Linked DNA regions of Homo sapiens. The protein of the gene in region 4 binds, or shares a complex with, the protein of the main gene of each other region. Each region holds a gene or a part of one and is shown on either strand. Other genes may lie near its edges. The genes, in order: NUP85, RANBP2, NUP188 and NUP160.

Evidence for each region.
Region 1: NUP160 (region 4) and NUP85 share a complex: the UniProt entries of both Homo sapiens proteins name them as parts of the nuclear pore complex.
Region 2: NUP160 (region 4) and RANBP2 share a complex: the UniProt entries of both Homo sapiens proteins name them as parts of the nuclear pore complex.
Region 3: NUP160 (region 4) and NUP188 share a complex: the UniProt entries of both Homo sapiens proteins name them as parts of the nuclear pore complex.

The regions. Positions count from the first base shown.
Region 1 is NC_000017.11:75,208,669-75,215,694, reverse strand, and holds part of NUP85 (nuclear pore complex protein Nup85), read right to left. Parts: intron 5,873-7,026; coding exon 5,710-5,872; intron 3,704-5,709; coding exon 3,633-3,703; intron 2,620-3,632; coding exon 2,576-2,619; intron 1-2,575. UniProt on the Homo sapiens protein: Essential component of the nuclear pore complex (NPC) that seems to be required for NPC assembly and maintenance. As part of the NPC Nup107-160 subcomplex plays a role in RNA export and in tethering NUP96/Nup98 and NUP153 to the nucleus.
Region 2 is NC_000002.12:108,764,481-108,771,506, reverse strand, and holds part of RANBP2 (E3 SUMO-protein ligase RanBP2), read right to left. Parts: coding exon 3,119-7,026; intron 2,248-3,118; coding exon of another isoform or gene 2,170-2,247; intron 1-2,169. UniProt on the Homo sapiens protein: E3 SUMO-protein ligase which facilitates SUMO1 and SUMO2 conjugation by UBE2I. Involved in transport factor (Ran-GTP, karyopherin)-mediated protein import via the F-G repeat-containing domain which acts as a docking site for substrates.
Region 3 is NC_000009.12:128,950,673-128,957,698, reverse strand, and holds part of NUP188 (nucleoporin NUP188), read right to left. Parts: intron 4,927-7,026; coding exon 4,853-4,926; intron 1,350-4,852; coding exon 1,265-1,349; intron 748-1,264; coding exon 667-747; intron 1-666. UniProt on the Homo sapiens protein: Component of the nuclear pore complex (NPC), a complex required for the trafficking across the nuclear envelope. Required for proper protein transport into the nucleus.
Region 4 is NC_000011.10:47,782,349-47,789,374, forward strand, and holds part of NUP160 (nuclear pore complex protein Nup160), read right to left. Parts: intron 6,264-7,026; coding exon 6,153-6,263; intron 5,958-6,152; coding exon 5,834-5,957; intron 4,207-5,833; coding exon 4,105-4,206; intron 2,716-4,104; coding exon 2,574-2,715; intron 851-2,573; coding exon 725-850; intron 1-724. UniProt on the Homo sapiens protein: Functions as a component of the nuclear pore complex (NPC). Involved in poly(A)+ RNA transport.

The DNA.
Region 1 (7,026 bases), on a different chromosome or scaffold from region 4:
CCAAGGGATAAAGCAGACTTTGACTCATATGACAGTCATTCCTTAACCCAAAGGTTACTGCAATCCTACTGGAGGATTTCCCACAGGGGAGCCAGCGTGAGGATGTTAGGTGGTGGGATGGAGACCAACACTATTTTGTTTTAGTGGTTGTGATTTTATTTTACTGTGCATTACAAAAATAACTTGGCCAGGTGCAGTGGCTCATTCCTGTAATCCCAGCACTTTGGGAGGCCAAGGCAGGTGGAATGCTTGAGTCTAGGAGTTTGAGACCAGCTTGAGCAACATGGCAAGATCCTGTCTCAACAAAAAATATAAAAATTGGCCAAGTGTAGTGACATATCCCCGCAGTCTCAGCTACTCAGGAGGCTGAGGTGGGAGCATCACTTGAGCCCAGGAAGTTGAGTCTGAGTGAGCCATAATCGTGCCACTATTCCAGCCTGGGCAAGAGCGAGACCTTGTCTCAAAATTTAAAAAAAGAAAAAATATAACTTGCATGTCACCAGTTATTATTTATTTATCTTTTGAGATGGAGTTTGGCTCTTGCTGCCCAAGCTAGAGTGCAGTGGCATAATCTTGGCTCACTGCAACTTCCGCCTCCCGGGTTCAAGTGATTCTCCTGCCTCAGCCTCCCCAGTAGCTGGGATTACAGGCGCCTGCCACCATGCCCAGCTAATTTTTTGTATTTTTAGTAGAGACGAGGTTTCACCTTGTTAGCCAGGAAGGTCTCGATCTCCTGACCTCGTGATACACCTGCCTCGGCCTCCCAAAGTGCTGGGATTACAGGCTTGAGCCACCGTGCCCTGCCAACACTCAGTTTTTGTTTTTTGTTTTTTTTTTTGAGACAGAGTCTCACTCTGTCAGTCAGGCTGGAGTGCAGTGGCATGATCTCGGCTCACTGCAACCTCTGCCTCCAGGGTTCAAGCAATTCTCCTGCCTCAGCCTCCCAAGTGGCTGGGATTACAGGCGCACACCACCACGCCTAGCTAAATATTGTATTTTTAGTAGAGATGGAGTTTCCGTGTTGGCCAGGCTAGTTTCGAACTCCTAACCTCAAGAGATCCACCCACCTCGGCCTCTCAAAGTGCTGGGATTACAGGCGTGAGCCACTGCGCCCAGCCTATCTTGATGAACTGATGCTTTAGCAAGGTGCTTCATTTGAGTAAAAAGAAGAGACAATATTTAGAAGAATATTCAGTAGATGACATGAAACACGTAGACAGAGCAAGAATTGTGAAGCTGGTATTCAAAGGACTGAAGTTTAGGGGAACAGTCTATTAACGGGAAAGCCCAATATAAGACCCCGAAATAAATCAGACCTGGACCTTGCCCTTAGGAATACGCAGGCTTCCCTTCCTCACCATCCTTCAGTCCACAGACACCATGATGACTTGTTCATAAGGGTACTTCAGAGACAGTGAATTACTACCTAGTCACTACTGACTTTGAAAAGTATCTAATATGAAGCATCTACTGAGGAAAAAGATACTGTAAGTCATCTTCCAGCTCCAAGTAAAGTAGAGCCACTTGCAACTCAGTAAAAATGTTGAGTTTAGCCGGGCGCAGTGGCTCACACTTGTAATCCCAGCACTTTGGGAGGCTGAGGCAGGCAGATCACGAGGTCAGGAGATCGAGAGCATCCTGGCTAACACGGTGAAACCCCCTCTCTACTAAAAATACAAAAAATTAGCCCAGCTACTCGGGAGGCTGAGGCAGGAGAATGGCATGAACCTGGGAGGCGGAGCTTGCAGTGAGCCGAGATCGCGCCACTGCATTCCAGCCTGGGCGACAGAGAGAGACTCCGTCTCAAAAAAAAAAAAAAAAAAAAAAAAAAACTTGAGTTTTGCCAGGTGTGGCAGCTCACACCTATAATCCCAGCACTTTGGGAGGCCAAGGCAGGAGGATCACTTGAGCCCAAGAGTTCGAGACCAGCTTTGACAACACAGAGAGACCCTGTCTTTCAAAAAAAAAATGTTGAGTTCAAGAAGTGAGGAGTGTTTATGAGACCGAGCAGTGATCTCACAAGATTACTTCTCCATTTCAGGTGACAACCCCTCAACACAATTTGGTCAGGACATATATGTTCCATAAGAACGGAACATTCAGGGCCAGCACGGTGGCTTACACCTGTAATCCCACCACTTTGGGAGGTCGAGGCGGGTGGATCACTTGAGGTCAAAAGTTCAAGACCAGCCTGGCCAACATGGTGAAACCCCATCTCTACTAAAAATGCAAAAAGTAGCTGGGCTTGGTGTGGCATGCACCTATAATCCCAGCTACTCGGGAGGCTGAGACAGGAGAAATGCTTGAACCCAGGGCACTCCAGCCTGGGTGACAGAGCAAGACTCCATCTCAAAAAAAAAAAAAAGGAACCGAACATTCACTCAAGTATTTAACAAGCACTTCCTTGTGAGCTACACCTTGAAGGGGGCAAGACAATCACTGTCACCCAAAGGAGCTGCCTATCTACCTGAAAAGAAGAGACTTCTGCCATAACAGGAACTGCAAAGCCACCCCAGGTGGGTGCCCAGGACACAGGACACAGTGGTGCTAAAACAATAAAGGTGACTCCCCTTACCTGGCTGCTGAACTGGCGGCCATTGGCTGGATCTTTAGCAGCAACTAACAAAACACAAAACATTTTAAGTGAGCAATGGAACTCTTAGGCTTATTGTCATAGCTGAATATTCCAGGGTCTATGGCTTGAGCCTCTGTTTATTTTAATGAGAAAAATTAAAAGACATTATAATCTCTTTTAATTATGGATTTTTTTGTTGCTGTTAATGCTTCATATCCCTTCAATTCTCAAACCAAAAGCCCTCAAGTTACAAAATGGCACTTTCAACTGCAACACAGCTACCATAAAGGTCTCTGACATGCCAAGCACAGTGGCTCACACCTGTAATCCCGACACTTTGGGAGGCTGATGTCAAAGGACTGCTTGAGCCCAGGAGTTCAAGAACAGCCTGGAAAAATTAGGGAGACCCCGTTTCTACAAATAATTTAAAAATTATCAGAACAAAGTTCTCTGAGGAAAACTGGACAAAAACTGTTTAAATTAGCTGGGCATGGTAGTACACACCTGCAGTCCCAACTACTTGGAAGGATGAGGTAGGAAGATCACTTGAGCCCAGGCGGTGAGCTCATGACTGCAGTGAGCCATAATGTTTCTTTGCACTCCAGCCTGGGCAACCTTGTCTCAAAAAAAAAAAAAAAAAAAAAAAAAAACTCCAGGCACAGTGGCTGACTCCTGTAATCCCAGAACTCTGGGCTTGGTGGTGTACAACTGTAGTCCCAGCTACTCAGGAGGCTGAGGCTAGAGAATCGTTTGAACCTGGGAGGTGGAGGTTGCAGTGACCTGAGTTCATGCCACAGCACCTCAGCCTGGGCGACAGAGCAACACTCGGTCTCAAAAAAAAAAAAAAAAAAAAAAAAAAAAAAAAAAAAAAACAACAACAAAAAAAAAAACCTCTAAATGATTACCAAAAAAGTAAGGATTATGAAAGATGGAAAAATAAGTTTTGGACTGGAATATCAATCAAACTTTACCTCACAGTATTTATGCATAGATAAATACTCAAAATACCCACACACACACACACACACACACGCGCGCACGCGCACACAGTCCTTACTTGCAACCTGGTGCATTTCCTCCATACATGCTCTGATGACTGATCGGTAGTTTTTACTCACTCGAACCAATCTACAAAAAATGAAATAACACACAAGATGAGCCTGGAACATCTTGTAGTGCCACAAAGGAAGGAAACACTCAAATAAATGCAGAAATTTGCTGAAAGAAAGAGGAGAGCCGTTGTGAAGGAGCTCCTAACCTTCTGAAGCTGGAACAACTTGGACAACAAAATAAAACGCCACAAAACAACCCATGGGCTAAAGTTAATATCCACAAACCCATACTGCCATTAATTGTTGCAGATGAAATCTACTGGTCAGACCTTGTCTCAAAAAAATAAAAAAGATACATAAATGTATTTACTGGCCAGGCCCGGTGGCTCAGGCGTGTAATCCCAGCACTTTGGGAGGTGAAAGTGGGCAGATCACCTGAGGTCAGGTGTTTGAGACCAGCCTGGCCAACCTGGTGAAACCCTGTCTCTACTAAAAATACAAAAATCCCAGCTACTCAGGAGGCTGAGGCAGGAGAATCTCTTGAACCCGGCAGGCGGAGGTTGCAGTGAGCCAAGATCATGCCATTGCACTCCAGCCTGGGCGACAGAGTGAGACTCCATCTGAAAAAAAAAAAAAAAGAATAAGACAGGGTCCCCTGCCAGCAAGGAATTACAGGACTTTTGACATGTTTTTTTCCTAGAAGTGACAATAGATTTCTCAAACTCACCAATATTCTCCACTAGAGTCCCTTAAATCCAATAATCAGGCCAGGTGCAGTGGCTCACTCCTATAATCCCAGCACTTTGGGACGCTGAGGTGGGCAGATCACTTGAGGTCAGGAGTTCAAGACCAGCCCAGCCAAAATGATGAAACCCCATCTCTACTAAAAATGCAAAAATTAGCCAGGCGTGGTGGCACGCACCTGTAATCCCAGCTACTCAGGAGGCTGAGGCAGGAGAATGGCTTCAACCCAGGAGGCAGAGGCTGCAGTGGGCCAAGATTGCGCCACTGCACTCCAGCCTGGGTGACAGAGTGAAACTCTGTCTCAAAAAAAAAAAAAAAAACAGGGCCAGGCACAGTGGCTCACGTCTGTAATCCCAGCACTTTGGGAGGCCGAAGCAGGTGGATCACGAGGTCACGAGATCGAGACCATCCTGGCTAACACGGTGAAACCCCGTCTCTACTAAAAATACAAAAAATTAGCCGGATGTGGTGGCAGGCGCCTGTAGTCCCAGCTACTCGGGAGGCTGAGGCAGGAGAATGGCGTGAATCCAGGAGGCAGAGCTTACAGTGAGCGGAGAACGCGTCACTGCACTCCAGCCTGGGTGACAGAGCGAAACTCTGCCTCGAAAAAAAACAGAAAAACAACCAATAATCACTCTTGCACACACTCACACAGAAGCTGACCTGAGTCTTGTCCAGAATGATTCATTTGTGAAAAGCTTATCAAAGAAGTAACATACCAACACTGCCCATTCCCTAGCCATCCATGTGAAGGGACGCTGACAAAAATCTAACACAGGAGTTCTTAAACTTCAGTGTGCTGGAGATTTTAAGATCCAACCACGGAGATTTTGATTTTGATGATCTGAGGTGGGTCCCAAAAGTCTACAATTAACAAGTACCACTCTGATAATGATGAAGTTATGAACTACAATTCAAGAAAATCCTAATCTATAAATAGTACGAGAGTTTTCTGGTCTGTTGTCAAATAACGTCTGAACCATAATTTTTTAGAGACAAAACTGTTAGGTTTATATTAATTTTCAAATCTCCCAACAATGTGACCTCATTCAACGACTCTCACATGCTTGTGTGGCCTAAATTTTCTTCTTTAGAGGCTAAGTAAAATATGAATATAAATAAAGCTTGTCAAGCCAGCCCATCAATAGCATTTGCATATTCCCGCTAAGTCTTCCCATCACTGCTAATGTACACTGTCCAGTACTCATGCCTCAACTAGAACCAGGAGTCTCTTATTTCTTTACGCAACCCATAAAACACACAAAAAGACAACAATGTACTTCATTTGGCTTTCCACAGTGTAGTGTGGGCTTCAACACCAAACAGCAACCAACTTACTGAGATTTTCTGGATTTTCCAGTCAACTCTTCGTCAATTCTCTGGAGGCCCAGAAAGATTCCATGGGATTCATTGAAGAGTTTTCTCAAGATTTGAGAGTAAACATCTACATCCTTACGGATGATATAGATAAAGGGGCAACTTGGCACCATCTCTGATTTTTCTGAAACCAAACAGAAAAAAAAAATTTAACATCTATTATGATCATCTCCAAAAGTGAATCTACTCTAAAAAAATTTTCTGTGGCCGGGCATGGTGGCTCTTGCCTATAATCCCAGCACTTTGGGAGGCCAAGGCAGGCAGATCACGAGGTCAGGAATTCGAGACCAGGCTGGCCAACATAGCAAAACCCTGTCTCTACTAAAAATACAAAAATTAGCTGGGCGTGGTGGCACATGCCTTCATTCCCAGCTACTCAGGAGACTGAGGCAGGAGAATTGCTTCAAACCGGGAGGCGGAGGTGGCAGTGAGCCGAGATCACACCACTGCATTCCAGCCTGGACAGAGCGAGACTCCGTCTCAAAAAAAAAAAAAAAAAAAGAAAGCAAATCAAATGTCAAGATTCCAGTTTTATCCTTCTACTGGAAGGAGACTGTATCACTGTATCAGGAAAAGAAAAAGATTCACATCCTATCCAATAGCTGATGGAACTCAGGAAAATCAAGCCAAGGACAAGCTATGTCACTCTCCAGCTCCATCTGTGCCTTGGATGCTACGGCTCAGCTCAGCCTACAGAACTATTATTCAGCTGAATCCATGCTGTGGACACAAAAGTGACGGCCAAGCATCTGCAAGGTTCACAATAAGGGAGCTACTGATAGGAATTTGGTCACTTTGGACAAAGAAAAAGGGATAAAAAGCTTGACATTTTAAATATGAAGAAAATTTTTCATGAAAACTATTAATTTTTTTCCGGGATTCAACATCTTCAAGATCTCAAAAATCAATGAAAATCTAAAATAGCTAACATTTCAAAAATAAAAATGCCAAAATGCAACAGGATCGCTTGAGGCCAGGAGTGCGAGACCAGCCTAGGCAACAAAATGAGACTCCCATCTCTACAAAGAAAAAAAAATTAGCTGGGCGTGGTGGCATGGTGACCTGTAGTCTCAGCTACTAGGAAGACTGAGGCAGAGGATCACTTGAGCCCAAGAGGTAGAGGCTGCAGTGAGCCATGATCACACTGTACTCCAGCCCAGGTGACACAACAAAACCCTGTTGTATCTTGAAAACAAAATAGAGAAAATTAAAATAGTACAAAATAAATTCAACTGTTTCAGTCCACAACTAGTAAAATCTGAGGTAATAAACAGAAAA
Region 2 (7,026 bases), on a different chromosome or scaffold from region 4:
AACCCTAAGTGAACACAGAATCTATTTAAAACCAAAGAAAACAAAAAAAAATTTGTGTTTACTTAATAGTCATTGAAAAGAATTACTATAAATTTCTAGAATTTATAAAGGTTAAAAATTTTAAAGTGTTGCCTAACTATACTTAGCATACAATAGTTTACCAAAATATCCATGCATTTGCAGCAATTGAAAAAAATCTTAAAACATAGGCAAGTATTACTATACATATGAAACTAATCCAAAGCCAACTGTGATTAGTTTCTGTAAGGAAAGTTAACAATTGCCAAGAATGGAAGGTGACTAGAGTTGCATCTAGTTTGCCTATGTTCAAGCATGATACTAAGTAAAATTAAATAACAACTGTGACTCTATAGGTAGCTAACACTATAAAATCTAAGACCATTCATATGGCTAAAAACAACCCATCCCCAGCCACCATCAATGCAAAGGGCAAAAAATTAGAAAGAGAAAAAACTTCTATATGCAACCTGTTCTGAACTTCTGGCTAAAGGAGTTTAATAAAGCAAGCCAGTCATGAAGCATGCCATGTATACCAACTAGTGATAGGGAAACATTCTGAGAGCTATGGTGTCCAATATGGTAGCCTAGCCACATTCTATTAAAACCTCACAAGGTGGCTAGTCCAAATCAAGACGTGCTAACAGTAAGTGTAAACACACACACTGGATTTTGAAGACTTGGTGAAAAACAATAATGTAAAATATCATTAATTTTTATATTAATTAGAAGTTAAAATGATATTTTGGACATAAGTTAAATCAAATCTATCAATAAAGTTACTTTCATCTGTTTCCCTTTTTAACTGTTTCTTTTTATTCTTTTTAATATGGCTACTAGAAAATTTATTTATTTATTTATTTATTTGAGATGCAGTCTTGCTTTGTCACCCAGAGCTGGAGTGCAGTGATGTGATCACAGTTCACTAAAGCCTGGAACTTGTGGGCTCAAGTGATCCCTCTGCCTCAGCCTCCCAAGTAACTGGGATTATAGGCACAAGCCATTGCACCAAATGACAATTTTAAATTACATACACAGGTTATATTTTATTTCTACTGGATGACACTGCTCTGCAGAACCAGTGCCCTTCCTTTTACAATGTTAAATTTGTCCCTCTCCTTCATTATAAACAAAAACTTAGTATCATTTTCTAGCTAGGAGAAATAACAGTACACCGTAAGATACAGATTCTTGTTCCACTTCTGCTATTACTCAGTAAAGACACCTTGGGTAAATCAGATAGCCTCTCTTGGCCTCAGTTTACTCATGTCTAAAGTCTTCATTTCTAAGGTCCCTTGGGACAATGACATTATCAGATTCAAAACAAAATAAGGCTCTATGTTCTACAGTAGTATATAGGCACATTCATTCTTAGGTCAGGGATTCCTAACCTAGAGCTCACAGAAACTGTACGCAAGTATACATCCACTTTTAAGTTAACACTTTTCACATTTCTCAAAGACCGTATCTTTAAAAATAAAAGATTAAGAGCTACCTTAGCTAGTAATAAAACTGGTATACTTAAAAAAAAAAATCAGAGATTGCTACTTTATCATTGTACTTGTTTGGCATGGCTAAGATGTGTTACTGGTCACTAAGGGTGAGATTTCACTTCCCTAACCTGTTCTTGAAGGCCTTCAACAGATCCCACTTCTTGTTCCACTCTAGTAGCCACACTTCTAAAATTGATCGGTGCAACATATATAATATGCAAGCTGTAGAATGCTGGCTGTTAAAAACGGGGTCCATTTTCAAATACAACATTTTTCTAAACCATGCACAAAAGAACAGCCCTACAGGGACACTCTTCCATATTGTATACATGCCGTTGCCACTACATTTGAATACTGGCAGACGTTAGTGGCTAAACATAAACATTAGATAAAACATAGGTCTTCATTGAGCAGACCTGAAATAGCAGAGCAATGAAGTACATTACAAATCAGCATCCCAGTACATTTTAAAAAACAAACCAACAAGGGTGTCATGCCACCAGTCAAAAGGTACTTTGCTTAAACTGGCATTCTTTAACATGCATGTTGTAGTGGTAAGTACTTCATTTCATACAGCCACAGTTATTAATACTTTGCTAAGGGCTACCCAGCTGCTAAAAACTGCTGTTATCTCATACTGAGAATGCTAGTTCTATACCTTTGCTCTCAGGCTGTGAGGAAGGGGTGCTAGTCCAAAAGGCCATGGGATTAGATTTAAAAAGGCTAAAATTAAATCCTAGAAAATAAAGAATATTTCGTTTTTTAACATTTTAGGAAACAAAATGAATATGCTTTTAAAACATAAAAAGCCAGAATCCCTCAATTTATACCACCAATCTGATTGTCTTACATATTCATTTATCCCTGTAGTTTCATTCTTTGCTCATTTAATACATGAGCAAGACTGACATACAACATATAAAATGAGAACATCTCAATATCACGTTGTTTTTTTTTTTTTGGAGACAAAGTCTCAGTCACTCAGTCAGGCTGGAGTGCAGTGGCATGATTTCAGCTCACTGCTACCTCCATCTCCTGTGCTCAAGTGATCCTCCTGCCTCAGCCTCCTAAGTAGCTGCTAATTATAGGCACGCACCACGACGCCCGGCTCATTTTTGTATTTTCAGTAGAAACAGGGTTTCACCATGCTGGCCAGGCTGGTCTCGAACTCTTGAGCTCAAGTGATCTGCCCACCTCAACCTCCCAAAGTGCTGGCATTCTAGGAGTGAGCCACCGTGCCCAGCCTCAATATCATGTTTTCTGAGTGACAAAAGAAACTGAACAAATGAAAATGAACACTTTAAAAAAAGACTCACGTTAATGTGCATGATTCAAGCATGAGTCCGTATACCGTACCGAGTTCTTTTGCTCTGCCCTAGCATGATAAAAGTATCTTCCAGTTACTGAAATGTCTTAAACTAAGTTCTCTTGCTCTTTGAAACCTCACCGTGAACTTATTAAGGGAGAAAAAAAATTGCTCAAATATTTTGGGGGTGTTCACAAAGCATCATTTATATCCCAACATTAGTATCCTACAAAGAGTCTGCATCAAGCTAAACATTAAAAGAAAGAAAAATTGTGCTTAACTTTAACAACAAAGTACTTACCCTTTTCTGGTGTTTTAAATGTGTAGTTGATTGAAGATTCTTCCGTTGGAAAGGAAGCAAAGAGATTTTTGACTTTGCTATCTGAAGACTGTTCGATATCAGAGTTCTTTGACAGTTCACATTTTTTAGGTTCCACTTTGCTTTCAGATCCACTCTGGGCTACTGAACTAGTTTCACTATTGTTACTTTTCAAAGGTGCATTAAAACTAAATCCAAACAAAGACCCAGTGGCTGAACTGTTGCCGAATGCAAATGGTTTTGATTTTTCACTACTAAAAATGCTTTTAACAGACTCTGAACCAAATACAAACTTTGGAGGAGAAACCACTGCTTTTGGTGTTGTTTCAGATGTGCTAGACACTTCAACTTCTGAAGTTGCATCTGCTACATCATCACCCTGAATAACATCTGTCCTCTCTCTTGTGGTTTCTTCTAATACAGCTACAGCAATTTTGCCACATGGTGACTCTCTGGGAGTGCTTGACCGAGAAACATGAGGTGTTATCAAAGAATCTTTTTCCTGGGCTGTTTTTGCTTCATCAAAAATTTTCTTAAACGAGTCTGCAACATCCTGTAGTTTAAAACGAACAGCTAAATGCTCTACTTTTCTTTCTCCATCTGCAAAATCACATGCAGTCCACAACCATACTCTTTCTGTCCCTTTCATATTTTGCAAAGTCATGTCTGGAGTTATTCTGTGATTGGCACAAAGTTTTAATACTTGGTCCCTTCTCATCACTATACGAACTTGCTTATTATCATAATTCTGTAAAATCTTTATATCACCAATGCCCCTTTCTTTCCATTGACCAACATCTTTATCATATCTGTAGAGTTTTGCCCTGTGACTAAAAACAACTTGTTCATTTTCCTCACCACTGGATACTTCAACTAGATCAGGTAAAGGAACAACAGGTTCAAAGTACTGTCCATCTCTCTCTTCTTCTTGAGTAACATCAGATTCTTCATCAGTGCCAACTGAAGTCCCACTCTGATTCAACTTGGCAGGAGACTTAGATGGACTCAAAGCAGATTTAAAACTGAAGTTAAATCCTGTTGTTGACTCACCAAAACGGAAAAGATTTTTTCTCACAGGGCTACTTGCCAATGGAGAAGCATGTACTGAGCTACTACTGACACTATCATCCAAAGCATCTTCCCTTAAATCATAGTTATCCCATTCTAATGTGGGCCCAGTGTTTTCAGGATTGGGTTTTATTGTTGTGTCTGAGGCACCGGCCGCACCTGTACCTGAACCCTTATTTTCTTCCTCAGTGACTTTTGTTTGATCATTTGTCAAAAATGTTTTGAAATCTTTCAGTCCACTCTTCATTTCTTCAGCTCTCTGTATTAACTTGGCAGCTCTGCCAGTATCTACAAGTTTATGGGGAGTTTGAAGTGGTATGTCTAACAGAAGCCGCTGGCATTCCTCAAATTTCTGCTTGAATTCTTCAGCCAGCTCTGGTGTTTTAAATTTTGCTGCCAACTGCTCTAGTTTGGCATCACCATCAGAGAAATCACTGGCTAACCACATCCATGCTCTATCTGATCCAGAGAGAGGCTTCAGGTTCATCGTAGTCGTTATCCAATGATTAGCACACACTTTTAGTACTTGTTCTCTTCGCATCAGCATTCTTAGTTTGCCATTGACCTCGTTTTTGAGAATTTTTAAGTTCCCCAAGCCCCTTTCTTTCCACTGACTTACCTCAGCATCAAATCTAAATAGTTTTACCCGCTGTGAATACAGAACTTTTTCATCTTCTTCTCCTGTTACAAGTTCTACTTTTTCGGGCATTTGAACTACTGGTTCAAAATGGATGTCATCGCTGTCCTCAGTCTTATAGGCATCATCATCTTTCTCAAAGTCACCGGAAGTGTTTGCTTTATTGGCCATTTTACCGTATTGTGATGAGAATAATTTTTCTCCAGCACCTGAAAATCCCTTGAAATTGGGGTCTTTTTTGCCAAACTGAAATCCTTCTCCTGAAGTTGATTTTGCAAGATCTGCAAATGTAAAAGTGCTACTTGTTTGGCCAAAAATCACACCACGGCCATTCTTCTGGCCACTAATATCCTGAGCCTGGAAGCCAGTACCATTTTCAAGAGGCTTTTCACTTTTCTTTTCTTGATTTCCTGGTTCCGAAATGCCAAATTTAAATCCATCAGCAGACACAGGGATGGAAAATCCTTCTTTGGTTGACTTAAATTCTGTATTAGAAGAACCCTGAAACATAAATGAAGGTGAATTTTCTTGATCCACATGCCCAAATTTGAATCCTTGCTCTGTATTGCCAAACTTAGAAGCTTTTTCTGAGAAATTACTTTTAAATCCTGTTCCCACCTGACTTCCAGAAGAGTCATGCAACTTCATTTCTGAGCCCAGTGTGAAAGCTGAAGGAGCTTCTGCAATAGGTTTATGAGTTGGTTTAGAGGCATCACAAGCCACACATTTTAAGGAAGAACTCTCATTTTGTACACAGCAAACACTACAATCCCACTGTCCTTTCCTGATGAACATTCCTTCAAATCCACTCTTTGGAGCCTTGCTTATCTCCGAAGAGGCAGGTGTTGAAATTGCAGTTGTTTGATTTTGTTTACTTGGACACTGACAAGCAATACATTTGGTAGCACTGGCTTCATTTCTTACTAAGCACACACTGCAATCCCACTGTCCTTCCTTCTTAGTGAACATTCCCTCAAATCCGCTCTTTGGAGCCTTGCTTGTCTCTGAAGAGGCAGGTGTTGAAACTGCAGAAGTAGTTTGATTTTGTTTACCTGGATTCTGACAAGCAATACATTTGGTAGCACTGGCTTCATTTCTTACTAAGCACACACTGCAATCCCACTGTCCCTCCTTCTTAGTGAACATTCCCTCAAATCCGCTCTTTGGAGCCTTGCTTGTCTCTGAAGAGGCAGGTGTTGAAACTGCAGAAGTAGTTTGATTTTGTTTACCTGGATTCTGACAAGCAATACATTTGGTAGCACTGGCTTCATTTCTTACTAAGCACACACTGCAATCCCACTGTCCCTCCTTCTTAGTGAACATTCCCTCAAATCCGCTCTTTGGAGCCTTGCTTGTCTCTGAAGTACCAAACTTAAAAGAGGCAGGAGCTGGAACAGAAGTAGATGGACTTGGTTTATCCGGATTCTGACAAGCAACACATCTTGTAGCATTTGCTTCATTTCGCACTAAGCATGAACTGCAATCCCACTGTCCTTCCTTCTTAGCAAACATGTCTTCAAATCCACTTTTTAGAGTTTTACTTGTCTCTGAAGTACCAAACTTAAAAGAGGCAGGTGTTGGAATAGAAGTAGCAGGTAGACTCTGTTTTCTCGGATTCTGACAAGCAGCACATTTTGTAGAGCTCCCCTCATTTTGTACCAAACATGCACTGCAATCCCACTGTCCTTCCTTTGTAGAAAAAACAGATCTGAAATCACTGTTAATAGGTTTAGGAAGATCTCCCTGGCCAAATTTAAATGAAGCTTGATGAACAAATGAAGATCCACTTTTGTTAGCAGATTTTGTATTCTGACACGCAATGCACCTAGATACAGTAGGTTCATTTCTTACTAAACAAATACTACAATCCCAGTGACCTTCTTTCTTTGGAGTCACCAATGCAAATCGATCTTGAACATTCTCTGGGCTGGTTTTAGGAGTAAAAACAGTTTCAGCTAATGGTGGGCCAACGAGCTCTTTATTGCTTGGGTTTAGATTTTGGCATGATACACATTTCTTAGCAGTTGAAGCATTCTTTAATGAGCAGCTGTTACAATGCCACCAAGACCCTTCTTTCTTTGCAACCTGAAATTCAAAATTCAGGTTTCCAGCATCAGATTTGCAAATATCCTTGTTATCATGACTTGTGGGTTCTTTTACAATTCTGACAGCCTGATTTGACGCC
Region 3 (7,026 bases), on a different chromosome or scaffold from region 4:
AGGTCAGGAGATTGAGACCATCCTGGCTAACACGGTGAAATCCTGTCTCTACTAAAAACACAAAAAATTAGCCGGGCGTGGTGGCAGGCGCCTATAGTCCCAGCTACTTGGGAGGCTGAGGCAGGAGAATGGCGTGAACCCGGGAGACAGAGCTTCCAGTGAGCCAAGATCACGCCATTGCACTCCAGCCTGGGAGACAGAGCGAAACTCCATCTCAAAAAAAAAAGAAACTCTACCAAATCCTTATCACCTCTAATAGCCCAAGATTCTATGATTAACATGTCAGTCTTTGACCTCTCCACTCCTCCAAGTATGAAGACAGATCTCAGCTTATATGCATATATATTCTTTACTTTTTAAAGAGATAGGGTCTCACTCTTTTGCCTAGGCTGGAGTGCAGTAGTGCGATCACAGTTCACTGCAGCCTCAAACTCCTGGACTCAAGTGATCCTCCTGCCTCAGCCTCCCAAGAAGCTGGGAGTACAGGCACAAGCCATTGCACCCAGGTCATGTTTTTTTTAAAGCCTTTAGTAGGTCTTCCCTGAAGATGACGGTACCTGATCACCTACCACCGATAAAAGAATTGGTGCCAAAATCCTACATTATCTAAAACCAACAGGGAAAAAGGATAAAGGCAGAAGAAAGGAGCTGACATAAACCACAAACCTTTACTGAGTCCCGAGTACCCCTGTAGTCCTCTTGCAGGTAACACTGGAGTAACTGCACACTCTGTTCTTCATCAAGACCCTGAAACACAGAGATTTTAAGTAAGGAACAGCTCAGAAATCGCACACAGGATGCAGAGAATTTAAAGATTTGTCTTCTACAATGAACACAGGACTTGAATAAACAAAAATGCTTCTCAAAGATTCATAAAACATAACAATTCTGACTCTAATAGAAGACAAGAGCCAGTCACTGACATACAATTTTTATTACAATTAAATGTACATGCCAGAAACAACGATGCTTATTCACTAAGCACATTAATACAGCAGTAGGCATGATGTGAGCTTCCAAAATGACAAACTTAGTCACCTTAAAGACCACCACATGTCTGGTGAAGAAAACCCTATGATATGCAGTGAATGGATCAGGCAACTTTGACTTGTAACTTTTAGGGAGAAGAGTTGCAACCTGGGTATTTATAAAACAATTTAATCCCCAAAACAAAAAGAAACTGAATTTTCACTATCACTAGCAATATAACCACGCACATCCACACTGCAAGTAATAAATTGAGCGAGTGCTAATTTTTACTCACCAAAAACTTGCTGATTCTTAAACCCAGTTCCTTCAATGGTGAAGCTACATCTTTATTAGCTTTCACTTTTTCAGCTGAACTTGGACTACAAAAAGAACAGTGAATCATTTCTTCATTCTCAATAGCCCACTGAGTTTAAAATAAAAATATTTTAAAATATTTTTCCTACAGACTATTTTCTGCCCTTCAGATGCCTATAAACACACACACAAACACACACACGCACACACACACACACACACACACACACACCCATTCACCTCTACAAACTTCATAACGCAGAACTGGTTATGCCTAACAAAACAAAACAAAAAAAAAGTGGTTAAATTACAGTTATAACAATGTTATTTGTAAACACATTAAGTTACATTATTTTTGATCCTTACTACTGCCCTAAAAGGCAAATATTACTATTCTCCTTTTACAAATGGAATTGCCAGCACTTAGGGTAAATAACTTACCAAAAATCCCACAGCTCATAAACAGTTGCTAAAATTTAAAACCAGGTCTGTGGCATACATACATATATTAATATATTATCTGTAATAGCTCTGTCCACCGAGAAGGCCTAGAATTTATAATACTCCAACAGCAGGAGGTACATGCAGCACCCAGATCCTGCTTTATAATACCATTCTCTAATAACAGGATTCCTTGGAGAATTGGTTGATTCTAGAGTCAGGGCAAGGAAAATACAAGAAAATCTTGAAGCATCTTATAGTGAAAAGAAGTACAAAAGGGCTTAAGAAACCAAAGTCCTTTCGGTAGGAGATGACATAATAGAAAAAAAAGAAAAGAAAAAAAGAAAAAAGGAAGGACACGCCCAAAGGACAGAGGCCAACCTAAAAGAATGCCCAATAGCCAAAGCTGAAACAAGGTATAAACAAAGTATAAGATAAATAAAATAAATATATTTGAGTCTATACTGATATAAACTAATGAATAAATAAATAGGATAGGGAGGGGCCAGAACAATGGCTCATGCCTGTAATCCCAGCACTTTGGGAGGCCAAGGCAGGAGTGTAGCTTGAGGCCAGGAGTTTGAGACCAGCCTAGACAACAAAGTGAGACCCTCATCTCCACCAAAAGTGAAAAAAATTAGCTGGACATGGCTATATTTAGTACTCACTTCCAAAAAATAAAATAGGAAAAGAGAAAAAAGTAACTTTACAGAGGAGAAACTTGGCAAATGCCTCCTTAACTGAGTGACCAAGATTAACATTACCAGTGATTTCATGTGGACAGCATGTACTCTCTGCTATGATGTGGTAAGAAGGGTAGCTTGGCCAGGCGTGGTGGCTCACGCCTGTAATCCCAGCACTTTGGGAGGCTGAGGCGGGCGGATCACCTGAGGTCAGGAGTTCAAGACCAGCCTGACCAATATGGTGAAACCCTGTCTCTACTAAAAATACAAAAATTAGCCAGGCATGGTGGCATGCACCTGTAGTCCCAGCTACTCGGGAGGCTGAGACAGAATTGCTTGAACCCAGGAGGCAAAGGTTGCAGTGAGCTGAAATCGCACCATTGCACGCGAGCATGGGCAACAAGAGCGAAACTCCATCTCAAAAAAAAAAAAAAGAAGAGCACCTCACCTCTGTGTATTTTTCCCAAAAACTCACAACCCCAGTCTAATAATAAGGAAAACATCAGACAAACCCAAATTGGGGGCATACTACAAAATAACTGACCAGTCCTCAAACTTGTTCAAGGTCATGAAAATCAAGGTAAGACTAAGACATTGTCGACATTGTCACCGGCCGCGGTGGCTCACGCCTGTAATCCCAGCACTTTGGGAGGCCGAGGCGGGCGGATCATGAGGTCAGGAGATTGAGACCATCCTGGCGAACACAGTGAAACCCTGTCTCTACTAAAAATACAAAAAATTAGCCAGGCGTGGTGGCGGGCGCCTGTAGTCCCTGCTACTCGGGAGGCTGAGGCAGGAGAATGGCGTGAACCCGGGAGGCAGAGCTTGCAGTGAGCCGAGATCGTGCCACTGCACTCCAGCCTGGGCCACAGAGCGAGACTCCATCTCAAAAAAAAAAAAAAAAAAAGACTAAGACATTGTCACAGCGGGCGCCTGTAGTCCCAGCTACTCGGGAGGCTGAGGCAGGAGAATGGCGTGAACCCGGGAGGCAGAGCTTGCAGTGAGCCGAGATCGTGCCACTGCACTCCAGCCTGGGCCACAAAGCGAGACTCCATCTCAAAAAAAAAAGACTAAGACATTGTCACAGCTAAGAGGAGACTACAGGCACTTGACAACTAGGTTGGATCCTGGAACAGAAAAAAGATAGTAAAGAAAACAATAGGCTGGGTATGACGGCTCACGCCTGTAATCTCAGCACTTTGGGAGGCCGAGGTGAGCAGATCACTTGAGATCAGGAGTTCAAGGCCAGCCTGGCCAACATGGTGAAACCCCATCTCTACTAAAAATACAAAAATTAGCTGGGCGTGGTGGCGGGCACCTGTAATCCCAGCCACTCGGGAGGCCAAGGCAAGCGAATCACTTGAACCCGGGAGGTGGAGGTTGCAGTAAGCTGAGATGTGACACTGCACTCCAGTCTGGGCGACAGAGCAAAACCCCATCTCAAAAAAAAAAAAAGAACAGACACTGGAATGAGACCACCAGGGTCAAATCCTGGTTCTATCACTTAGTAGCTGTGTGACCATGACAAGTTGCTTAACCTCTTTGTGCCTCAGTTTCCCCACTGGTAAAATGGAAACAATGATAAGGGTACCTAAATGTGATAATATAGAGATTATCTTTTTAAAAAGTCCATGTATTTTAGATACATAGTCAAGTATTTGCAGATAAAATAACAAGGTATCTGGGATTTACTTTAAGGTAATTACAGGGGAAGAATTAACAGACAGATGAATAACAAGGAAAAGTTCATCGTTAACCTAAGAGAATGAAAATGGAAGGTAAAGATGTAATACATTCAAAAGCAGTACAAAAGTAGAAGGGAAATGAGGGTGACTTAGACTATAACGCATAATAGAATGAGATCTGGACTAGGAATCAAGATCAAATAAGCCCAGCCCTACAAGCTGCATTCTCTTTATTTGCAACTACTTTATATTTTATTACTATGTTTTCCACTACCCAATAAAAAGATCTATATATTCACCCAAAGAATAAAAGTAGTAACTATCTCAAAGGGGTGTTGTGGGGATTAAATAACTTTTGATAAGTCAGGTGCTTAGAGTATTAATTGTTACATAGTTAACACTACACAAGTGTCAGTTGTTAGCATCATCCTTCACTGCTATCTCCCACCAATTAGTACTCACACAGACACTGTGGACTCTGAATAAATATTAGAAAATTCGTTGAATGTTTAATAAATTCTCATCCCCACACATAGGTCATAATTATATTCTACAATACTGTATTTCTAGAAGGAATTTCCTTTTCTTTCGGTCAACAAAAAAACAAATGTACCCTACTGTTTTCCACTGGTAAACTAAATTGTATTATCTCTGGTATACATAACCCTACAATATCATCAAAGCACATAGAAGGATGGTTTTATCCATGTCAGCTTCCTTAGGACAATTACTTTAACCAGACACCCGGAACTGCCATACCTGGGAGGTTTGTAGTAAGAAAGCCCCTCTAACAATCGCCGCCAATGTTTATTCAGTTCTGCCTCAATCTGACTCTGGAAAAGAACAAGGTAATTATACAAATGCAGTATTTTTTTTTTTTTTTGAGACAGAGTCTCACTCTATCACCCAGGCTGGAGTGCAGTGGCACCAACTTGGCTGACTGCAACCTCCGCCTCCCAGGTTCAAGTGATTCTCGAGCCTCAGCCTCCCGAGTAGCTGGAATTACAGGTGCCAGCCACCACACCCAGCTAATTATTGTATTTTTAGTAGAGATGGAGTTTCACCATGTTGGCTAGGCTGATCTCGAACTCCCCACCTCAAGTGATCTGCCTGCCTTGGCCTCCCAAAGTGCTGGGATTACAGGCGTGAGCCAAGGCACCCGACCGCAAATGCAGTTTTTTGTGCTTTCTTTTTTTTTTTTTTTTTTGAGACGGAGTCTCACTCTGTTACCCAGGATGGAGTGCAGTGGCGCAATCTTGGCTCACTGCAACCTCCGCCTCCTGGGTTCAAGCAATTCTCCTACCTCAGCCTCCTGAGCAGATGGGACTACAGGCGCACGCCACCATGCCAGTCAGTTTTTTTTGTATTTTTAGTAGAGATGGGGTTTCACCATATTGTCCAAGCTGGTCTTGAACTCCTGAACTCGTGATCTGCCCATGTCAGCAAAGTGCAGGGATTACAGGTGTGAGCCACTGCGCCCGGCCCAAATGCAGTTTTATTAATAATCAGACTCGGCCAGGCATGGTGGCTCAGGCCTGTAATCCTAGCACTTTGGGAGGCCGAAGCGGGCGGATCCCCTAGGGTTGGGAGTTGGAGACCAGCCTGACCAACATGGAGAAACCCTGTCTCTACTAAAAAATACAAAATTAGCTGGGCGTGGTGGTGTATGCCTGTAATCCCAGCTACTCGGGAGGCTGAGGCAGGAGAATCACTTGAACCTGGGAGGCAGAGGTTGTGGTGAGCCGAGATTGCACCAATGCACTCTAGCCAGGACAACAAGCACGAAACTCCGTCTCAAAAAAAAAAAAAAAAAATCAGATTCCAGAATCACACTAAGTATTACACATTCCTTTGAGTGTTTTTAATATGCATTTTTCCCCAGAGTTGAAATCATTTTGAATACAGAATTCTGTAACCTTCTTTTCTTTGCTTAACATTATAACATAATGACTTAACCTTATTATGAAAGTCTTGATAAACATACTTTCAAGTTGCTGCATAATACTTGTATCAAGTTGGTAGATCATAATTCATTTACCATTCCTCTAATGTTTGATATACTTAAGCTGACTGTAATTATTTAATAATATAAATGATGTTGTGGTGAAGTTTTCTTTGTTGTTTTTTGAGACAGGGTCCTGTTCTGTCACCCAGGCTGGAGTGCAGTGATGCAATCATGGCTCACTGCAGGCTTGATATCCTGAGCTTAAGCGATCTTTCCACCACAGCCTCCTGAGTAGCTGGAACTACTAATACAAGCATATGCCACCAAGCCTGACTTTTTTTTTTTTTTTTTTTTGAGATGGAGTCTCGCTTTGTCACCCAGGCTGGAGTACAGTTGCGCGATCTCGACTCACTGCAACCTCCACTTCCGGGTTCAAGCGAATCTCCTGCCTCAGCCTCCCGAGTAGCTGGGATTACAGGCATGCACCACCACACCGGGCTAATTTTGTATTTTTAGTAGAGACGGGGTTTCTCCATGTTGAGGCTGGTCACGAACTCCTGACCTCAGGTGATCCGCCCGCCTCGGCCTCCCAAAGTGCTGGGATTACAGGCGTGAGCCACCATGCCTGGCCAAGAATCTTTCTTAGGTTGAGGTAGAAGAATGGTATTTGCACCCCTACTCTCAGCAGCCAAGCAATGAACACAGGTATCTTTTCATAAAAGGAATCAATGAAATACAAAGGTAGATTTAAAAGACTTCAGCAGCTAGGCTAGGTAGTCTCATTTCAGCAAAGAAGTAGGGAATGCGTAATGTTTATAAAGCTTTTTGCTTTTTTGAGCTGGGGTCTCGATGTGTCTCCCAGGCTAGAGTTCACTGCAGCCTCAACCTCCCAGGATCAAGCAATCCTCCCACCTTGGACTCCTAAGTAGCTGGGACTACAGACATGCACCACCATGCCTGGCTAATTTTTTAAAAAATTTTTTGTAGA
Region 4 (7,026 bases):
TATATATATGCGCCTATACCGATGTTCCTCAACTTATGGTGGGTTTGTTTTCCAATAAACCCACTATCAGTTGAAAATATCATAGGTTGAAAATACATATAATACATCTAACCTAATGAACATCACGGCTTAGCCTAGCCTACTTAACCATGCTCAGGACACTTAACGTTAACCTATAAAGTTGGGCAAAATCATCTAACAGAAAGCCTACTTTATAATACACTGTTGAATATCTTGTGTAATTTATTGAATACTGTACTGCAACTGAAAAACTGAACGGTTGTATGAGTATTTTATTTATTTATTATTTATTTATTTATTTATTTTTGAGATGGAGTCTCGCTCTGTTGCCCAGGCTGGAGTGCAGTGGCATGATCTCGGCTCACTGCAACCTCTGCCTCCCAGGTTCAAGCGATTCTCCTGCCTCAGCCTCCTGAGTAGCTGGGATTACAGGTACGTGCCACTGCATCTGGCTAATTTCTGTATTTTTAGTAGAGACGGGGCTTTGCCATGTTGGCCAAACTGGTTTCGAACTCCTGACCTCAGGTGATCTGTCTGCCTCGGCCTCCCAAAGTGCTGGGATTATAGGCATGAGTCACTGTGCCCGGCCATCAGTATTTTAAAGTATGGTTTCTCATAAATGTTCATCACTTTCAAACCACTGTAAAGTTGAAAAATCGTAAGTCAAACCATTGTAAATTGGGGACCATTTGTATATGCCTACCTCAATTCCGAAGTATTGATGTCCTTTTCCCAATACAGCATCCACATATTCTGACACCAAATCCACAGCTTCTTCTAAAAGGTCATAGTTTAAGTATAAACGAAGCAATTCAGCAGCATCAACCTTCTGTGAAAAGTCAGTGATTAAGAATATGTACCTATTTCCCTCCTACTTGAGTACTGACCAAAGAATGTTGAGTGGCTGATTCCCTAACATTTGTATTTCTCAATATAATTAAACCAGTGGCTTGGTTTACTCATCTGTATCTTAGGATAAGAGCTGATAACAAATCTGGGGAGTTAGGAAAAAAAAAAAGTTAAATCCCTAAGAGCCGTTACCTCTAGGCAGTTTGGGAGGCCCTTATCTGTTAAATAGCCTTCTTCCCCTGTTTTATGACCTAAGACATATTTTAACTTCTCTCCACTTCAGTTTCCACAGTTGTAAAGTCAACAAACTTTTCCTGAACACTAAAGTGACAATATATTCACATAATAAGAAATATATGAATGACAAATGCAAAAGAAGTTCAAAGAATCACCAGCTTTAAATCTGAAGTCTCTATTTGGAAGAGCTCTATTAATTAAGCATGCTTTCTATATTCCCATTTGATCACAATCTTACCTTTACCATCTTAGCTGGCTTCCCTACTTTCCTATTTATTTATTTTTTTTGAGACAGAGTCTTGCTCTGTCGCCCAGGCTTGGGGGCAGTGGTGCAACCTCAGATCACTGTAACCTCTGCCTCCAGAGTAGCTGAGATTACAGGCACGCACCATCACATCCAGATAATTTTTGTATTTTTAGTGGAGATGGGGTTTCACCATGTTGGCCAGGCTGGTCTCGAATTCCTGACCTCAGGTGATCTGCCTGCCTTGGCCTCCCAAAGCGCTGGGTTTACAGGCGTGAGTCACCGTGCCCGGCCTCCTTTCTACCTTAAAAAAAAAACAAAAACAAAAACAAAAAAAACAAAACAAAACAAAACAAAAAAAACCAAAAAAAACTTTCCTGATTTTAAGCTTTAGATTTTCTCTTTCCTTATCCTACTAACGGTGGTTCAGATGCAGAAGTTCTCAAACTTTAGCATGCATCAAAATCAAATTAGGAGCTTCTTAAAATGTAGATTTCTGGCTCCTAGCCTGAGATAATCTGATTCTGTAAGTCTAGGATGAGGAATCTGTATTTTGAAGAAGACTGCCATCTGAATAATTCTGATGCAGACAGTCTAAGAACCCGTTTTTGATTTTTAATAGGTGAAACAGTGGGAGTGGAGAAGGAACCAATCGGAAACTGGTTGTGCTCAATTAGTTGTAAACAACACGGCACTCAGACCAGCCATAGTGTTATATTATTTGAAAAGTACTCCACCGACTCCTGTGACTTTTTTGAGGTATGAAGAGTAAATCCTGTGTCATGCATATGCTCATTGTTCTAAATATAAACTCATTGTTCAGTGAATATAATAGGAGTCATTAACCTAATTACTAACCTATGAAACTTCAAATCTAAATACACAGTAGTACTGTGGAAATGAATTTGAATTGTTCTTATGGTTTTAGCTATGATGAAAAGCTTCCCAAAGTACGTAAGTCAATATGTTCCCATAAGTTATCACCCCATCTTTTTCTTTTTCTTTATATATTTTTAAATTTAAATAGAGATGGGGTCTCCCTGTGTTGCCCAAGCTGGTCTCAAACTCCTGGGCTCAAGCCATCCTCCCCTGTTGGCCTACCAATGTGCGGGCATGACAGGTATGAGCCACTGCAATCAGTCCATATTTTTAATCATCTCATGAAGTTATCCAGAATGATAAAGAGTGGGTTCTTACTCTGTACAAGTTATAATCCGTTTACCTTGTAACTGTTTATAAGCCAATTAGGCAGAGGCACTCCATGAGACAAGAGCTTGTTGATTACACAGTGGTGATACAAGTTATTCTGGACTTTGTACCTCTCCAGGTAAGTGGATAATAGTCGCCATGCTTCATCTGTAGCACTTGAAAAAAACAAAAATGACTAATGAGTTTCAGATTCTTAATAGCTATTTAGAGTACCATTCAAAGCATGTATTTACAAGGAAAACTTTTTTTTCAGACAGGGTCTTGCTCTGTCACCCAGGCTAGAGTGGAGTGGTGTGATCTCAGCTCACTGCAGCCTCAGCCCCAGATTCTCCCATTTCAGCTTCCTAAATAGCTGGGAATACAGGCATGCACCACTATGCCCAGCTAATTTTGTTTATGTTTTGTAGAGACAAGGACTTGCTATGTTGTCCACGCTGGTATTAAACTCCAGAGCTAAAGTGATCCTCTGACCTTGTCCTCCCTAAGTGTTGGGATTACAGGCAGGAGTCACCATGCCCAGCCTTACAAGGAAAACTTTAGAAATTAACAACTGAATCAATAATATAGCTAAATGGGAACAAATATTATTTGGGCTAATGTGACTTATGGGGATAGCACTAGAAACTAGATGTCTTGGGTTCGTATATTCCTCTCCCACTAACGTATTTAGTATTTAGTAAACAAACATATTTAGTAAATGAACGTTATTTGTTTGGCTATTAATGCATAATTCATTTAACTCCTTTGTTTCTGCATTTCTAAAACAAGAAACTGGTTCAGAACACTGGTTCTCAAACCTGATCAAGCATTAGAATCATGCAGAAGTTCTAACTTAGAAGACTAGGGTGATTTCTCATAATCTGTATTTTAATAAGTTATTCTGATGTGCTAATTTAGGGGTTGAAAACTAATGTCAGAGAACTTCCAAATTCTAAAGTGCTATCACTCTAAAGTGCTAAGCTGTATAATACCAAGTGCAAATGCAGTTCAGAAAGGGAAGTTTACTGAGGGTTAGGAATGTTAGAGAAGGTTTCTGAAGAAGCTGAAGTATATTTACGTGGACACAAAGTGGGTGCACTGGGGAAGTATACGAACCAGAGGAGATCTGAAGAAGGTATAGTGGATGATGGGGGCTGATGGGTGACAGACTGCTGAACAGCAGCTGGAGACAAGATATAAGAGGACACTGTGATGAAACCATGCAGTGACTGCTCAGTGGAAGAAATGGGGGAAAAAAGGAGGATAACACTCCGAAACAAGTAAATACAGATTTTTGCCTGTAAGAGTACCCTTTCCTGATATGAAACAGTAAGTCTTTGAGGAGGGGGATATGGAGAAGGAGACATTTCATAGGCAAAGACATCCTAGTTTGGACAATAAATGACATGATGTCACCTTAATTATAAACTTTCCAGCCCCTATAAAAACTTAGCCAAAAAGAAAGAAAAAAGTGAAATGATCTATGTAGGACAATTTAGTCAGAGAAAGACAGTTACAGCTTTTAGAAAGGCAAAACTACCCAGGGTTGAACACCAGGGTTGTACCTAGACTCCTTAGTAGTGATGACAGATGAGAGCTGATTGGCTGCTAGCCAGGCCCAGGCTTCTGCTTGTGCTGCCTCTCCTCCAAATTGCAATTTGATGCATCTGGAATGAAAATGGTTCCACACTTGAAAACTGAACGCTGAAACGTACCACTTTAATTTGATACTAAAACTAGAGAGATAGATGACAACTTCATCTCTAGTCTTTTGCTGAATTCACTACTGGAATATTGGCTCATCTCTTCCTCAAGTTACACAACTGGATACCTACAAGAACATGAGTAAGCATTAAGAGACAATTTACTTCCAAGATAAAATTAATGATGAAAAATTCTTTTTTCTTTTCTTTTTTTTTGAGATGGAGTCTTGCTCTGTCACCCAGGCTGCAGTGCAGTGGTGCAATCTCAGCTCACTGCAACCTCTGCCTCCCAGGTTCAAGTGATTCTCCTGTCTCAGCCTCCTGAGTAGCTGGGACTACAGGCCCATGCCACCATGCCTGGCTAATTTTTTGTATATTTAGTAGAGACGGGGTTTCACTGTGTTAGCCAGGATGGTCTTGATCTCCTGACCTCATGATCCGCCCGCCTAGGTCTCCCAAAGTCCTGGGATAACAGGTATGAGCCACCGCACCTGGCCTCTTTTTTTTTTTAAATTAAGATGGAGTCTCGCTCTGTTGCCCAGGCTGGAGTGCAGTGGCGCAATCTCAACTCATTGTAACCTCCGTCTCCCAGGCTCAAGCGATTCTCCTGCCTTAGCCACCCAAGTAGCTGGGATTACAGGCACACGCCACCTCTCCTGGCTAACTTTTGTATTTTTAGTAGAGATGGGGTTTCGTCATGTTGGCCGGGCAGGTCTTGAACTCCTGACCTCAAGTGATCTGCCCACCTTGGCCTCCCAACGTGATGGCATTACAGGCGTAAGCCACTGCACCTGGCTGAAAAATTCTGAAAGTTCAAAATTATTTCTAATTCACAAACTTTTTTTTTTTTTTTTTTTGAAACAGAGTCTTGCTTTGTTGCCCAGGCTCGAGTGCAGAGGCGCGATCTCAGCTCACTGCAACCTCTGCCTCCCAAGTTCAAGAGATTCTTGTGCCTAAGCCTCCTGAGAGGCTGAAATTACTGTTGTGTGCCACACCCTCATTTTTGTATTTTTAGTAGAGACAGGGTTTCACCATGTTGGCCAGGCTGGTCCCAAGCGATCCACCCGCCACAGCCTCCCAAAGTATTAGTAGGATTACAGATGTGAGCCACTGTGCCTGGCCAAGAAATTCTTCTTCTTTTTTTTGAGACAGAGTCTCGCTCTGTCGCCCAGGCTGGAGTGCAGTGGCGCGATCTCGGCTCATTGCAAGCTCTGCCTCCCAGGTTCACGCCATTCTCCTGCCTCAGCCTCCCGAGTAGCTGGGACTACAGGCGCCCGCCACCACGCCCGACTAATTTTTTTTGTATTATTTTTAGTAGAGACGGGGTTTCACCTTGTTAGCCAGGATGGTCTTGATCTCCTGGCCTCGTGATCCGCCCGCCTCGGCCTCCCAAAGTGCTGGGATTACAGGCGTGAGCCACTGCGCTCAGCCTGAAATTCTTTTTAAGAATGCTTGGATGGATTAAACAAAACACTTCTTCAAATCATAAATGATATATGGGCTACTTGGCTTATGACGACTGTTTCACACTGAGCAAGAGGATAATATATTTGCATTAGAAAAGACTATAAAAAAATAATTTTATACATACTTGAAGGCAAGCCCTTCAAAGACTGGCGTTAAGGGAAGCTTAAAAGTCTGACAGAGTGATATGGCAGTGTCAAAGAGGCCCGCCTGAACCAAGAGAGTGACCATTTCCTCTGCTGATGAACTTCCTGTGAAAATGGAAAAAGATTATTTCGTGTAGCCAAGGTATACACAAATGAAACCAAAGATTTTGTTTTGTTGATGAGTATCTCTGAGTAATAACCCAGGCTTTATACCCATCTACCATGCTACATACACTGCCTGGACCTAAAATGTGCTCGTGGTGCTGACAAGTCAGAGGCTTTAAACTCTTGAATTCCTACCAGCAACTGCAACCGCTGATGGATCATGCTGAGCCAAAGTGAGGCGGATGCGAGCCAAGGAACACTCTTTCTCCAGATCTTCCAGTTCCAGGATTTCAATTTGTCGATTTGCTATACATCAAAGAAAAATATTTTGAACTCCCAAAATACAAAGAAGTATCCATCAGATTAACGCAACCTGTCAATTTCCACTGAACATTAAGTAACATTCAATCTAATTTCCAAATGCATGAAGGAAGGAGAAAATAGGGCACTAAATAAATGCTAACTTAAACAAATTATGCAATATCCCATGTCAAATCAAAGTATTTTAACCGACTGCAGTTGAGGAGGTGCTTACAAGGTACTACATGTAATTTCATTTAACTCTTTAAACTTTTTTTTTTTTTTTTAAGGAAACAAATCTCAATCTGTCACCCAGGCTGGAGTGCAGTGGCATGATCTCGGCTCACTGCAACCTCCGCCTCTTGGGTTCATGTGATTCTCCTGCCTCAGCCTTCCGAGTAGCTGGGATTACAGGCGTGCACCACCATGCCCAGCTAATTTTTGTATTTTTAGTAGACACGGGGTTTTACCATGTTGGCCAGGCTGTTCTTAAACTCCTGACCTCAGGTGATCCAGCCACCTCAGCCTCCCAACGTGCTGGGATTACAGGCATCAGCCACTGTGCCCAGCCTAAAAAATTTTTTTTCTACAGGGTCTTGCTATGTTGCCCAGGCTGGTCTTGAACTCCTGAGCTCAAATGACCCTCCTGCCTTGGCCTCCCAAAATGCTGGGATTACAAGGCATGAGCCACTGCACCTGGCCTCATTTAACTATTATAATTGTGAAATACTGTCTGTCATCTCTATCAATAAGAAAGAAATATGACCAA